2 separate regions of the Homo sapiens genome follow, and region 2 is linked to region 1. Evidence: fine-mapped expression QTL. Tissue or cell type: unexposed skin. Region 1 holds a variant in brackets; the other region holds the start of a gene. All regions are shown on one strand. Distances are from middle to middle.

Region 1 (8,491 bases):
CCAGCAGGTCCCAAAGGATGAGGTAAAAAGTGTGACACATAAAGAGTTGTGCTATGCTCAGAAAGAACTGCATTATTTTCCAAATGATAGAGACAGAAATCTGAGAAAATATGTAGTAATTGATATTAAGAGTGTCAGATAAACATGAAAAGAACACAAGTTGTATCAGGGCTGAATCAGGCTTAGAGAGGTTGGAATATTAGAGTGGATTTTTTTAGGTAAGTACTGCTCAGCCACATAGGAAGGGTCAGAAGACACCTCTGTCACCATGACTGTGAGAAATAAATTCATGAGAGAAGCCACAGAATCCTTGAAGGGCTCTGTGGTCACTCTTTGTAGGTCAGGAATTACAGTGGGAACTGCTGCCACTGAACTGAGATCCTTAGATACAATCAGGTACTGGAGCCTGAGGTGGCAAGGGCCAAATGGTGGCACTTCATTATCAAAGACAAGGTGGCCATGGTTACCATAATGTACAGCTGAGTCAAAGAAGTACTCAGAATAGTCTGACTCACAGTCAGTCATTGGCTAGTTGATCATGAAATACCCCGATGAGCAACAGATGGGAGGTCTGATAAATTCTTACTTGATGTGTATAAGCAGAAGAATTCTAAGTCAAGTACACAGAAGTCTAATAAAAATTATCAAAAGATAGAATTGTGGCCCTTTGATCAAAACTGGATGTATCCAGTTTTCAGACCCAGAATCACTTACATAAAGGGGAGAACATGTGCCCTTAAAGAAGTGGAAACTCCCAGAATATTATTCTATTTATCTTCCTCCCAGCCTTCCCCAAAGGGACTTATGGCCTTTTATTAAGGTGATTGTGCATGGAGGAAAAGGAAATAACCAGACTTTTTGGGGATTATGAGACACTGGGTCTGAACTGACACTAATTTGAGGAGATCCAAAATGCCACTGTGATCCACTAGTCACAGTAGGGGCTTATGGAGGTCAGGTGATGAACGGAGTTTTAGCTCATGTATATCTTAGTGGGTCCAGTGTGTCACCAAACCCATCCTGTCATTATTTTTCAGTACCAGAATGCATAATTGTAAAAGACATACTCAGTGACTGGCACAATTTCCACACTGGTTTCATAACTTGCAGAGTAAGGGCTGCTATGATAGGAAAGGTTAAGTGGAAGCCACAAGATCTGCTTCTACTTAGGAAGATAGTAAATAAAAAGTAGTATTGCATTCCTGGAGGGATTGCAGAGATTATTGCTACCATTAAGGACTGAAGGATGCAAGGGTGGTGATTCCTAACATAGTCCAATTCAATTCACCTATTTGGCTATTTCAGAAAACAGATCTTTGAAGATAGCAGTGAATTATTGTAAACTGAACCAGGTGATGACTCTAATTGCAGCTGCAATTCCAGATGTGGTTTCATTCTGTGAGCAAATTAAGTCGTCCCTTGGTACTGATACGCAGCTACTCATCTGCAATTTTTTCTCCATATCTGTCAGTAAAAAACACCAGAAGTATTTTGTTTTCAGCTGGTGAGGCTGGAAATACACCTTCCTTGTCTTACCTTTGGGGTATATTGACTCTCCAGCTCTATGCCATAATTTAGTCAACAGGATGTTGATTGCCTTTCCCTTCCATGAGACATCACACTGGTCCATCACATAGAAGACATTGTGCTCCTTGGATCCAGAGAGCCAGAAGTGCAGCTACTGTAGACTAATTGTTAAGACATTTGCATGTTCAGAGGTTGGGAAATAAATCCAGTTAAAATTCAGGGATCTTTCACCTCAGTGAAATTTCCAGGGGTCTCGTGATGTGGTACATGTCAAGATATCCTTTCTAGAGTGAAGAAAATATTGCACCTGGCCCCTCCTACAAACAAAAATAGGTACAATGCCTACTGGGCCTCTTTGGATTTTAGAGACAATATATTCATCATTCAGGTGTGATACTTGAAATATTTATTGAGGGACCTGAAAACCTAGTTATGAGTGAGACCCAGAGCAAGAGAAAGCTCTGCAACCGGTCCGAGCTGTTCTGCCTTTTGGGTCATATGGTTCAGCAGATCCAATGATGCTATCCAGTGGCAGATAGCCATGCTGTTTGGAGCCTTGGGCAGGCCTGTAGAGGTGAATTGCAGCACAGACCCTTCAGATTTTGAAACAAAATTCGGCCATCTTTGTCAGATAACTGTTCTTTTCTGAGAAACAACTTTTGGTTTATTATTGGACCTCAGAAGAAATTGAATGCTTAACTGTCAGCTACCAAGTTACATGAAACTTTAGCTGCCCACCATAAACTGAGTATTGCCTGACCCATCAAGCCAGAAAATTGGGCATTCATAGTCACACTCCATTATCAAATGTATGTGATATGTATGATATTAGGTTTCAGCAAGACCTTAAGGCATAGATAAGTTACATGAAAAAGTGGCCTAAATGCCCATGGTCCCTACTCCTGCTACACTGCCTTTTCTTCTACACAGCCTGCACCTATGGCCACATGGAAAGTTCTACATGATCACTTGCCATAAAAGTAGAAGACTTGGTCCTGGTTTACAAATGTTTCTGCACAATATGAGGACACCATCTGAAAGTGGACAGCTACAGCACTACAGCCCTTTTCTGGGATATCCCTGAAGGACACTGGTGAAGGGAAAATCCTCCCAGTGGGCAAAACTTTGAGCAGTGCATTTTGTTGTTCACTTTTTTTGGAAGGAGATATCACCAGATATGTGATTATATACCAATTCATGGTATGTGACCAAAGGTTTGGCTGGATGGTCAGGGATTTGGAAAGGGCATAATTAGAAAATCAGTGACAAGGGGATCTGGGGAAAAGGCCCTTGGATAGACAATTTTTTTTAATAATTGGAAAACATGAAATTATTGTTATCCCATGTGAGTGCTCACCAAAGGGTGACCTGAGCAGACGTGGATTTTAATAAGGTGGATAGGATGACCCAATCTGTGGCTAACAGTCAACTTCTTTCCCCAGGCACTGCTCTCATTTTCCAATGGATTTAGGAAGAAAATGGCTAAAGTGGAAGGGATGGAGGTTATACCTGGGGTCAGCAACATGAACTTTCACTCACCAAGGCTGACATGGCTACAGTCACTGCAGAGTGTCCCATCTGTCAGCAGCACAGAACAACACTGAGCTCCCAATATGGCACCATTTACTGAAGTGATTAGCCAAGTACCCACTGGTAGGTTGGTTACAGCAGACCACTTTCCTTGTGGAAAGGGCAGTGTTTTGTTCTTACTGGAATAAATACATTGTTTTTGTTTTTATTTTTTTTTTGTTTCAATAGCTTTTGTGGTACAAGGGGGTTTCTGTTACATGGATGAATTATATAGTGGTAAATTCTGAGTGTACCTGTCACCTGAGTAGTGTTCATTGTACCTAATGTGTACTTTCTTTTTTAATCCCTAACTGCCTTCCAACCCTCCCCCTTCTGAGTCTCTAAAGTCCATTATATCACTTTGTATGCCTTTGTGTACTCATAGCTTAGCTCCCTCTTATAAGTGAGAACATACGGTTTTTGGTTTTTCATTCCTGTGTTACTTCACTTAGAATAATGGCCTCCAGCTCCATCCAACTTGCAGCAAAAGACATTATTTCATTCCTTTTTAATGGATGAATTGTATTCCATGCTGTATATATTACCACATTAGAATAAACAATTTGGATATGGATGCATGCACTGCTTCTACCAAAACTACCATTCATGACTTACAGAATGCCTTTCTACTATCATGCAATTCCACACAGCATTGCTTCTGATGAAGAAATCACTTAACAACAAATGAAGGGTAGCAACGAGCCCGTGCCTACAGAATTCACTGGTGTTATTATTTCCCCAACCTCCTAAAGTTGATGACTTGATAGAATAGTGGAACAGCCTTTTGAAGACTCAGTTATTGTGCCACCCAAATCACAATACCATGCAGGGCTGGGGGCAGTGTTCTCCAGAAGGCTGGTTATGCTGTAAATCAACATTCAATTTATGGTGCTGCTTCTTCCATAGCCAAGATGTGTAGGTTCAGGAATCAAGGAGTGAAAATGAGAGTGGCAAAACTCACTGTTACTTTTAGTGATTCATTAGAAAAATTTGTACATTCTGTGCCTGCGACCTTATGCTCTGCTGAAAGTTAAAATGGCTACCTGGCCACTTTGGATTCTGTACACCTGTGAGTCAATAGGCAAAGCAGTATTTATGGTTTGAGAAGAACTTTCCAGGCATTATGGTGGCAGAGATCAAGATGAACTGTGCCCAGGGCATCTCTTAAATATGTATGAGTAGATAAGACATGTAAAAAAAATGAGCATTGTATAAAAAGTGACCCATAATCAAGTAAATGTTTACAAGAGGAAAAGTACATTTTGTGCTGGGTTAGTTAGCAAAAGT[C/A]TTGCTAATTGTGTGATACTTTAGCTATGTCACAAATATTGAGTTTATTACCACATCCCCAAACTCTGAATTCCAAACTAATGGACACTTGCAATTTGGCCTAGATATGAGTGTATGGACACTTATTGTTTTTTCATATATCTCTTTCATGGTTCAAGGGAGTCTGGTTTTCCCAAATACCAACTCTAATTACTTTGGTGACTAAAGCTTGAGGTGCCTTAAGCAGATACACTAAGTAGGATCTATATGCAGGCATATTTTTTTGTCTGGATGTACTTTTTTAAAACCAATTATTTATATATCACATAGTGAATCAGAGTAGGAGAATTAGTCCATGTTTTGTGTCAAATGACCTATCTTAATAAGTAAAGAACTGGGACCAAGTTCTTGAACAGGAACCTCTTTTTAATTGTCACATTTGTCTCACTAGCATTGAAATGGAGCACAAGAACTTTTGGGGATTGAAAAGGAGGAAAAATGATATAAGGGGGTATAGATATTTGTAGGCAGAGTGTGTACTGTAGGATTTGGTTTTGAAAAGTTCTAGTGGAGGAATAAGACAGGACTTGAGCTGGAAATGGAGGGGGGCATAAAACAAGTATCTTGGAAACTCACTCATTTTTAGTGGAATTTTCCCAATACTTTATTTCCTTCCTTATTTCTCTTTCTTGTATGACTTTGTTGATTGCAAAATCCAAAATATACCTTTCCTTGCTCCTCCTTTCCTTCCTTTCTAGGTACTGTGGAGGACGAGAATGAAGTAACAAAAATGGTCTCAGCCCACAGACTCCGGAAGTTTCTTCCTAAATGCTGTTTTCATTCTTTGAAGATCAAAGAAAGGACCTGGAAACATCCTTTCAGCACCTCTAAAGGAGCTCTGCTCAATTCAGGCAAGTGCTTTCTTAAAATGGCTTAATGGCAAAAGCAGTCTCTAATTTTATCTATTACTTCCTAAAATGGGGATGTAAATTTAAAAGTCTTACTCTCTGAATATGGGGAAGTAAAATTAGGGGTTAGTGGTGATACTTTCCATCATTTTGGGCACCAGAAAAATCTACTTTGACAGGAATACTGTCCCAGTGCTTGCCAATACCACAGCTACTGCCAGAAGGGCAGAAAGATCTTAAACAGAGAGTTTGACTAAGAGATTAAACAGAACCAGGAGGAGAGCCAGGAAATAAACAGTGCTAAGTGGTTCTTTTTTTTTTTTTAATGTAAAGGAAGATTGCCAGGAAGAATGATTTATGAGATGGAGATGGAGAAAAGAAAAATGAAATACAAAAGGTATATGATTTTCAGTACTTAACACTAAATATTTGGCTAATCCTGGGAAAGATAAACTTATGTTGTGATTGTTTGAGACAGACTGAAGGCACAGTTGCACTGGTCTCTATAGAAAACCAACTCCACATAAACTCATTTTCCAGGAATTGGTAAAAAGAAACAGTTTAACATGGGTTTAGCTTTATTATAACTACTCAATTATAGAAAGTAAACATTATATATGTTCAGTATGCTTTTTAAAAGAAGGGGCAAACTGAGCAAGATATTTAAAAATGTCCTATAAAATATTTTTATGGGCAAATTTTGATTCTTAAGGAGCTGAACTTTCTAGACAATTACATATTCGGAATACCCTTTTTCTGAAGACATTGGATATCTGAGCTGTTACATAATTTGTCCATAAACTTTCCAATCACCATTGGTAAGACTATCTCTTATTCTTATTTGTATTCTTAAGGAAATATGCCCTTACTGCATATTCCCCTTGAGCTGTGTATTTATTACTCCTTTCTCCTTCAATAGCTCCCCTTGTTAACTTGGGTATAGATTTACTACTAAGACTTTGTATTTTCATTCCCATTATTTTACTTTTCTACTACCTGGTTCTTAAAACTTGACATTACAGTTACTGTTGGAAAATGTTTTCTTAAATGTGTGAAATAGAGGCATGAAGCATCACTTTTCTGAACTCTGTTTCAAGGAGTTTATTTAAAAATAGATGCATATATAGTGGGATACTGTAATTAAACTTGAATAAATAGAAATTTGATTATATGCTGAATTCTGGCCAGAAACTTATATAGTTAAAAAAAGTTTAATTCTGAAGAATGTCAAATTGGTAGGTTTCTGTAGGCAAAAACAGGCAGTCTTTACTTTCTGCCAGCATCTGTCCCTGGATACTAAATATAAAGCAGAATGTGGTAAAAATTTTCTCATTGACATTATATTACACTTGAGGATTGAATTTATGACCAAAACATTGACACTGAATAGAGCTTATACTTGACAATCAGTATGTTAGGAAAAAAAGATACTAGAAACCTTTCTGGTTTTCAAAATAGAAATAGTATAAATGAGTATATAGTGTGCACATTTGACTATAAAATGTCAAAGTGTGTGAAGACATATATACTTAGTACTAAAATTTGTATTCAATATCAGAAATGTGACCTACAAGAAGCTTTCACAATTTCAGATATTCAATTATGCTTAAAATAGAACCATTCATTCTTTCACTCAACAAATATGTATTACTTACTATATGAAAGAGAGCATCCTAGGCTCATGTCATGGAACAAAACAAAAATCTCTGCTGTTGTGAAGCTCATATCCCAGTGAATGGAATGGAAAATAATTACACAAGTGAAATATGTAGTATGTAAGGTGGTGATAAGTTCTACAAAGAAACAAATAAAGCATGAAAAAAGAGTATGTAATAGTGAGAGGAGGCGTACATTTAAATTTTATATAAAGTGGATTAATTGAGAAGGAGAATTTTGATTTGAGTGAATTTCTGAAGAAGGTAAGAAAACAAGACATGAAGAAAAAAGAATATTTCAGATTAGAAGAGCATTAGTTATTATTTAGGCCTTATTTTACAGATTAAAAATCTGAGGCCCAAATTACTCACTCAGGCTGGATTCCTAATTCTGTCTTCTGGATGAGGATTTGTTTCTTGTGAAAAGCGTAATTTGAGCAGAAGCCAGAAATAACAGAAGTTAGTTTTAAATAGCAATATTTTCCTAGTCTGAAGCAATACTGAACAGGAGGTTTTAGCCTGGAAATTTGGGTCTGCTTTTTGTAGTTGAGTTAAATACGATGCTTCTGTAACTCCAAAATGAAGTCTGAGTTGCTGCAGAGAAGTATCATGGTTCTGCACTTATTTATGACAGGTCAAAATGACTTACAAACAATTTGGAGTGTGATCTCTAGTGCTAAGAAAAACAGCAAGAAAAGGCAACAATATCCTATGTCAAAAAATATTTCTGCAATATAGGATCAGGCTCTTAGATGGAAATTCTGGTTGACCAAATTGCCTGTCATGGTTTTTCAAGATTCAGATCTGAGACCAAGACTCTCCAGTGATGTCTGAATGTTTAAGATGTTTTCTAATTTAGAGAAAAACCTAGATTATTAAGCATAGTTTTTGCTTTTGGTGCCCTACAATATGTTTGGCATCTTGTAAACCTGGGGATAGCCACAAAGAGTTCATTCTTGGGTTATCTTTGTGATGATCACCTGTAGGCAGTTACTTTACCTTTGATTTTTCAAAAGCCACTAACAAGCCATGTGACCCTGAGACGAGTCCCTTCTACTGTTTGGATCTCAGATTCATCATCTGTACCATCAATAGGGTTGGGCTATAATTTCTAAGAGGACTTACAATACTGAAATTACAGGATTCTGGTTTTATTCAAACGAGAGATATTCTTTTTAAGAAGATTAATAAAAACATACTTTATAATTCCCTGGAAATTAAAAAAAAATACCATACACAGAAACACTCTTCTACCAATGTTGTTTACCCAATTTAGGCCTTTATGTATGTTTTCTTCTGAATAGCTATAATGATTTGCCATTCTAGATCAGTTATTCTTTTTTGTTTTTTTTAAGACAGAGTCTCACACTGTCACCCAGGCTGGAGTGCAGTGGCCTGATCTGGGCTCCCTGAAACCTCCGCCTCCTGGGTTCAAGTGATTCTCCTGCCTCAGCCTCCCAAATAGCTGGGATTACAGGCGCCTGCCACCACATCCAGCTAATTTTTTGTATTTTTAGTAAAGATAGGGTTTCACCATGTTGGCCAGGCAGGTCTCGAACTCCTGAC
Region 2 (5,000 bases), 200 kb before region 1:
TCTCCCCATGCAGTCAGTTTTGTTATATGTTTATCCACCTGGAATGAATGGAATTTAAACAAAATCCTTCTGATGGTGGTTTGTATTTTCAAGTCGCTTTCAGATTTTATATTTATCATTTTAAGAGATTTAGAAAATATTCCTATCAGCTCATTACTGCATTAGATACACAAAGGAACCAAGAAATACTAATGGCTGTTAACTTGCCAGAGAACACCCAGTTGTTTACATGTCAAAACAAGGGTGAACTCCCAGTTATCCCAGTTACCCCGTTTCTCTCCCATTGAAATCCATGCAGCAAGATAGTTTAGAGCAGCCACTGTTAGGTGTTAGGAACATGAGAATAACAAAATGGACCAAAGTAGAGGTCCATACAGGGCAATGTTATTTGGGAGATTATGATAGTTACCATTCATAGTATTGAATTCACAAGGTTGGGTATGTACCTTAAGAATCAGCACCTTCCCTTTATTATCCTTTATTATTGGTCAATTATACTGAAAATACAAATTTATAATTTTCTATACTGTGGAAGAGTCTTGCTTTTATGACAGATAAATAGTTTCTAAATGCATCAAAATTTCATTAAGGGGAGGTAGTAGAAAATGAGAATTGATGATTCTTGATTAGGAATACACTAACATGCTAGATTAAGTCTAAAAGCAAATAGCAAACTTTTCTTAACCTACCATTATCTGTGTGCTTACTGGCTCCCAAACTGACTTATTTTATTTGGAGGAACCCTGATTGGCTGGTGTAGTCAATACTTAGGGGAACTGGGGAAAATTTTTTTATCATGGATGAATGTAAATATAGCACTTGAGGTTGTTTATGATGTAAAAACAGATAGCTTTTAGTTCTAATTGAGCCATTAATAGTAAAACAACAACAGAAAACATTTCTGAATGATTAAGACTTCTGTAATAAAGTTAAAATTGTCTTGTAACAAATTTTCCTAATGTATTTTAAATGTAATACAGTCCTTTGTATTTTATAATGCATTGTAAAAATATAAATATTTTTGTTTTTAAAACAGTGTACAATCTAGTCCAGATTTAGTTACAATTTCTTTTAAAATAATCATTTGTTAGACATATGGTATCATAGTTTCTCTCTAGGTTTCAAAATAATCAGAATACTGGAAAGCAGAACCACTGAATTCAGTAGGTGGAACTTACAAACCCATTTGTTTCCTCTTGAAAACAGCCTTTTTTGTCGCTAAGTAGAAAAATGTTCCTGGCTAAAGATTTTATTAAAATGTATGAATCTTTGGCTCTGTGTAAACTTAGTCTACACCAGATGTGTCTGAGTTACTAAATAGATCATGCAATTTTCTTCTATTCATTTATAGTTGAGAGAGCTTTATTTTTACAGTCTCTGGCCAGAACTGGCCATTTTCTAGTTGTACGGTGTGTTTCAAGAAAATTTTTTAGCCTCTCTGAGTCAATTTTCTCATTCATAAACATGGACAGTAACACCTACCTTGTCTAAATTATAGGATGTTGAAAGGTTCAGGTGGGATAACAAATGTGAAACTACCTTGTGAAAATTTTACTCTCCACTGGTTTACCTTCAGTAATTACTACATATTTATTTTCCATATTGAAGGAAAATGTCACTACATTAGAGAAACTCCACTGAACCCTCAAAATGGGGATTTGAAAATGTATCTTACATTTCTGGCTTAAATTACAAAGGCACAGGAGGTTTGCGGAGTGTGTCTCCTCTGTATTTTGCCACGTTGAGCCCTAGCAGAAGCACTGAGCAATATTTGTTGACAGACTGATCATATTATCAGATTTCTGGCTAAGAAATAAAGCAGAAAGAATTCATACTAGCACCCAAACTTAAAGCAGGCAAGGCAGATAACTTATCCCCAAACTCCTGGGAATTTGCTAAAATTTACCATCAGCAACATTTTACTACATACTGTTCTGGTCTTAGTACTGAATACTGAGTCTCCTTACCTGCTAACTTCAAGGTCCACAGTTTACTGTCCTTTTGCGTTTGTTCTCAGAAGCAAGCTCCAAGTCTTCAGTAAATTCGATCTACCAGTCCTTGCAATTAATCCTTGTTGGCGAGCTGCACAGTATCTTGATACCCTGTAGGGTCGTAAAAGCACAGTCCATTCACAGAGTGCCTGCTCTATAGGCAAGCTTCTTTGCAAAGATGGGTTGCTGCTATTTTTAAGAGGGGAGAGAGCAGGGCACATTTGCTAGCCAATATATACAGATATACAGATTCTTCTTCCTCTTTCAGATTAGCCTTCAAACTGTTAAAGCACTCCCGGAGTCTGACTTCTCTGGTGCAAAGTGGGGGAGGGGAAGGGTCAAAGAGGAAGGAAGAATAGAAACTGGAGACTTGCAGGTTGCGTGTATGTATAAATAAACTTTTCTTCCTAGCTTCAGGAATAGAATTCTCAGGAAATTATTCAGCTGCTCTAAGATGGGAAGCAGGGACGAGTGTTCTCTCTTCAGCTTAGTTCTCTGTGATTTCTGTGACTGTGAGGTCATTAGACTATTTGTAGGTGGGGAAAGATAATCCTGCCAGTATATGCTAATATAACTGGCATTATGTGAAACTTGATCTTAAGTAACATAAATTTCATCTCTCCGTTTCTCTCTCTCTCTCCTTAATGACACTTGTGGCTCTATCCACATTCTAAAAAGCCTTTTCCTTTCTGGTTCCTTTTTGAGCTTTGTTTCCTGAAATCTTCATAACAATAAATTGCCTCCATTGGATTAAAACTGTTGTTTTCTTTTTTTGTCCCACTGAAGATGATCTGGAATGACTGGGCTTGCTGTCAATGGTCCTGTGTTGGAAATTTGGGGGATCAGGCAAGTGTTCTTGGCCTTTGGCTAGGCTCTGAGGTGTTAGAGCTGTGGGGTGCTCAATATGGCTTCTGGAGAAAAGGGACATAGCAGTCTGGTATGTGCTGATTGAAGCCTGGGGCAGCACTTTGATGTTAAAAACCAAATTGGTAAGATCATGATGTGAATTTGTTACATCAATTATCTTGAGTTATATTAAGAAGATTCTATATGGAGATGGGCATAAATATGTTGATGTTAACACTTTGTAAACATGCCCCATAACTAACAACTAGTTTTAGGTACTTGTAAAATATGAGCCCAGCAGTAGCCTTCTGGCTTGCTACCTGCTGTAGGAACAAAGTCATTTACTCAAATTTTGTATCTTTAGGTACAAGAATTACCTCACAACCAACCTGGGACAATCGCTTTAAGGCCCTTGAATCTTTATCTCTTTTCACAGAGTTCTGGATTGTGGTGGTGATGGTGATAGTTGGAGGAAAAGGCTATCCAACCACATTTGAAGGGATGTTAACATTTGGATTCAAGACTAGACTTTCTAATCCTCTCCTAGGGAGTTTTAGTAACTAAACTGACATTCAAACTAGTATTTCTTCAACTGAGTTTGGATCCCCAAATATCTACAGGAAAATTTATAAGTGAGACACAGAGTGAATTATCACTTTTCCTCCAGTCTGAAATGTTACAGCCATTTTGAGCTACAGTGGAAGGGCAATTCATACTCAGGAAATGAAGAAAAGAGAAAGGAGCTAGATCCTTTGTGGGGATAAGAGAGATCAGATTGTTACTGTGTCTATGTAGAAAAGGAAGACACAAGAAATTCCATTTTGATCTGTACCAGGAAAAATTGTTTCTGCTTTGATACCATACCCCAGCACAACACCCGTAAAGGGTCTCTGCTGAGGAGGAGTAGTGAAAGAGGGAGGTCTCTTTGCAGTTGAGATAAGAGGAAGGCTTCTGTCTCCTGCTCCTCCCTGGGAATGGAATGTCTCCTGTAAAGCCAACCATTCCCATTCTTTCTATTCTGAGATAGGATAAAACCGCCCTGTGGCTAGAGGCGAGATATGCTGGCAGAAATACTGCTCTGTTACTCTTTGCTACACTGAGGTGTTTGTATAAAGTGAAACATAAATCTGGCCTACATGCACATCCAGGCACAGTACCTTTCCTTGAATTTATGCATGATACAGATCCTTTGCTCACGTTTTCCTGCTGACCTTCTCCCCACCTGTTGCTCTGCTACACTCCCCTTGCCAAGATAGTAAAAATAATGATCAATAAATACTGAGGGAACTCAGAGACCAGCGCTGGTGCAGGTCCTCACATGCTGAGGCTGCCGGTCCCCTGGGCCCACTGTTCTTTCTCTATACTTTGTCTCTGTGTCATTTCTTTTCTCAGTCTCTCGTACCACCTGATGAGAAATACCCACAGGCGTGGAGGGGCAGGCCCCCTTCAATCCTTGAGCTTCAAGTTGGCACCGAAATAGCTGTGGCAGAGAGGGTGTTTCCTGTGGTTCTTCTTTGTGCTCCCCTACCTGTTTCTTTCATTAGCTAATTTTCTGTTCTTGAGCAATGGGGAAGGCAGTGATTCACCCATTCCCAAATGGGTCTTTGCCTTGTACAGCTGGATCAATTTACACCACATTTGCTATAAATGACATCAGACTCCTTGTCTCCTTGCTTCATCTCTTTATCTTTTCTCTTCCCATCCATCCATCTTCATTACATATCTACTCTCACATTCTCTTTCACTTTAGGAAAGGTTGAAGTGCCCAGAATGATACCTGTCTGCTGCTGTCTCTCTACTCTTGCTCATTTTCCCAGACTCCTTCAGTTCTTACTTTCTTATTGAGGTAAGGAAGACCAAATAGGGAGTGGTGAGGGAGAGGGGGGATAACATGTAGTTGGATGGGAAATCTGTCTCAATGAAGTAAGACTTGGGTAGCAAGATAAAGAATTTTCAGTCACAACAGCGTTCACACGTAAGTGACAGGATTCATAGCTTATGTGGACTCAGAGCTGAAAGAGGTAATGAAAAATCATCATCTGGTTCAGACTTTATATTAAATTGAATTTGTGAGGGTATGACATGTCTGATTCATCATTGTGTCCTCAGCTGTTAGCTCATTGCCTTGTTTGGTTTGTTGAATAAATAAATCTAGTCCAACCC

Evidence for each region. PIP is the estimated chance that this variant, and not a neighbour inherited with it, causes the effect.
Region 2: it holds the start of CYSLTR1, and the variant in region 1 is fine-mapped to the expression of CYSLTR1 in unexposed skin (GTEx, PIP 0.94).

What each region holds. Positions count from the first base shown.
Region 1 is chrX:78,527,030-78,535,520 of GRCh38, forward strand. No RefSeq gene overlaps it. Among named protein-coding and RNA genes, the nearest start is that of RTL3, 130 kb to the right of the region's middle. The variant C/A (reference allele first, on the strand shown) is at 4,384.
Region 2 is chrX:78,325,338-78,330,337 of GRCh38, forward strand. CYSLTR1 (cysteinyl leukotriene receptor 1) reads right to left here and starts at 2,274. Exons shown (of 3, transcript NM_006639.4): 1 at 1,968-2,274. RefSeq lists an enhancer at 2,446-2,495.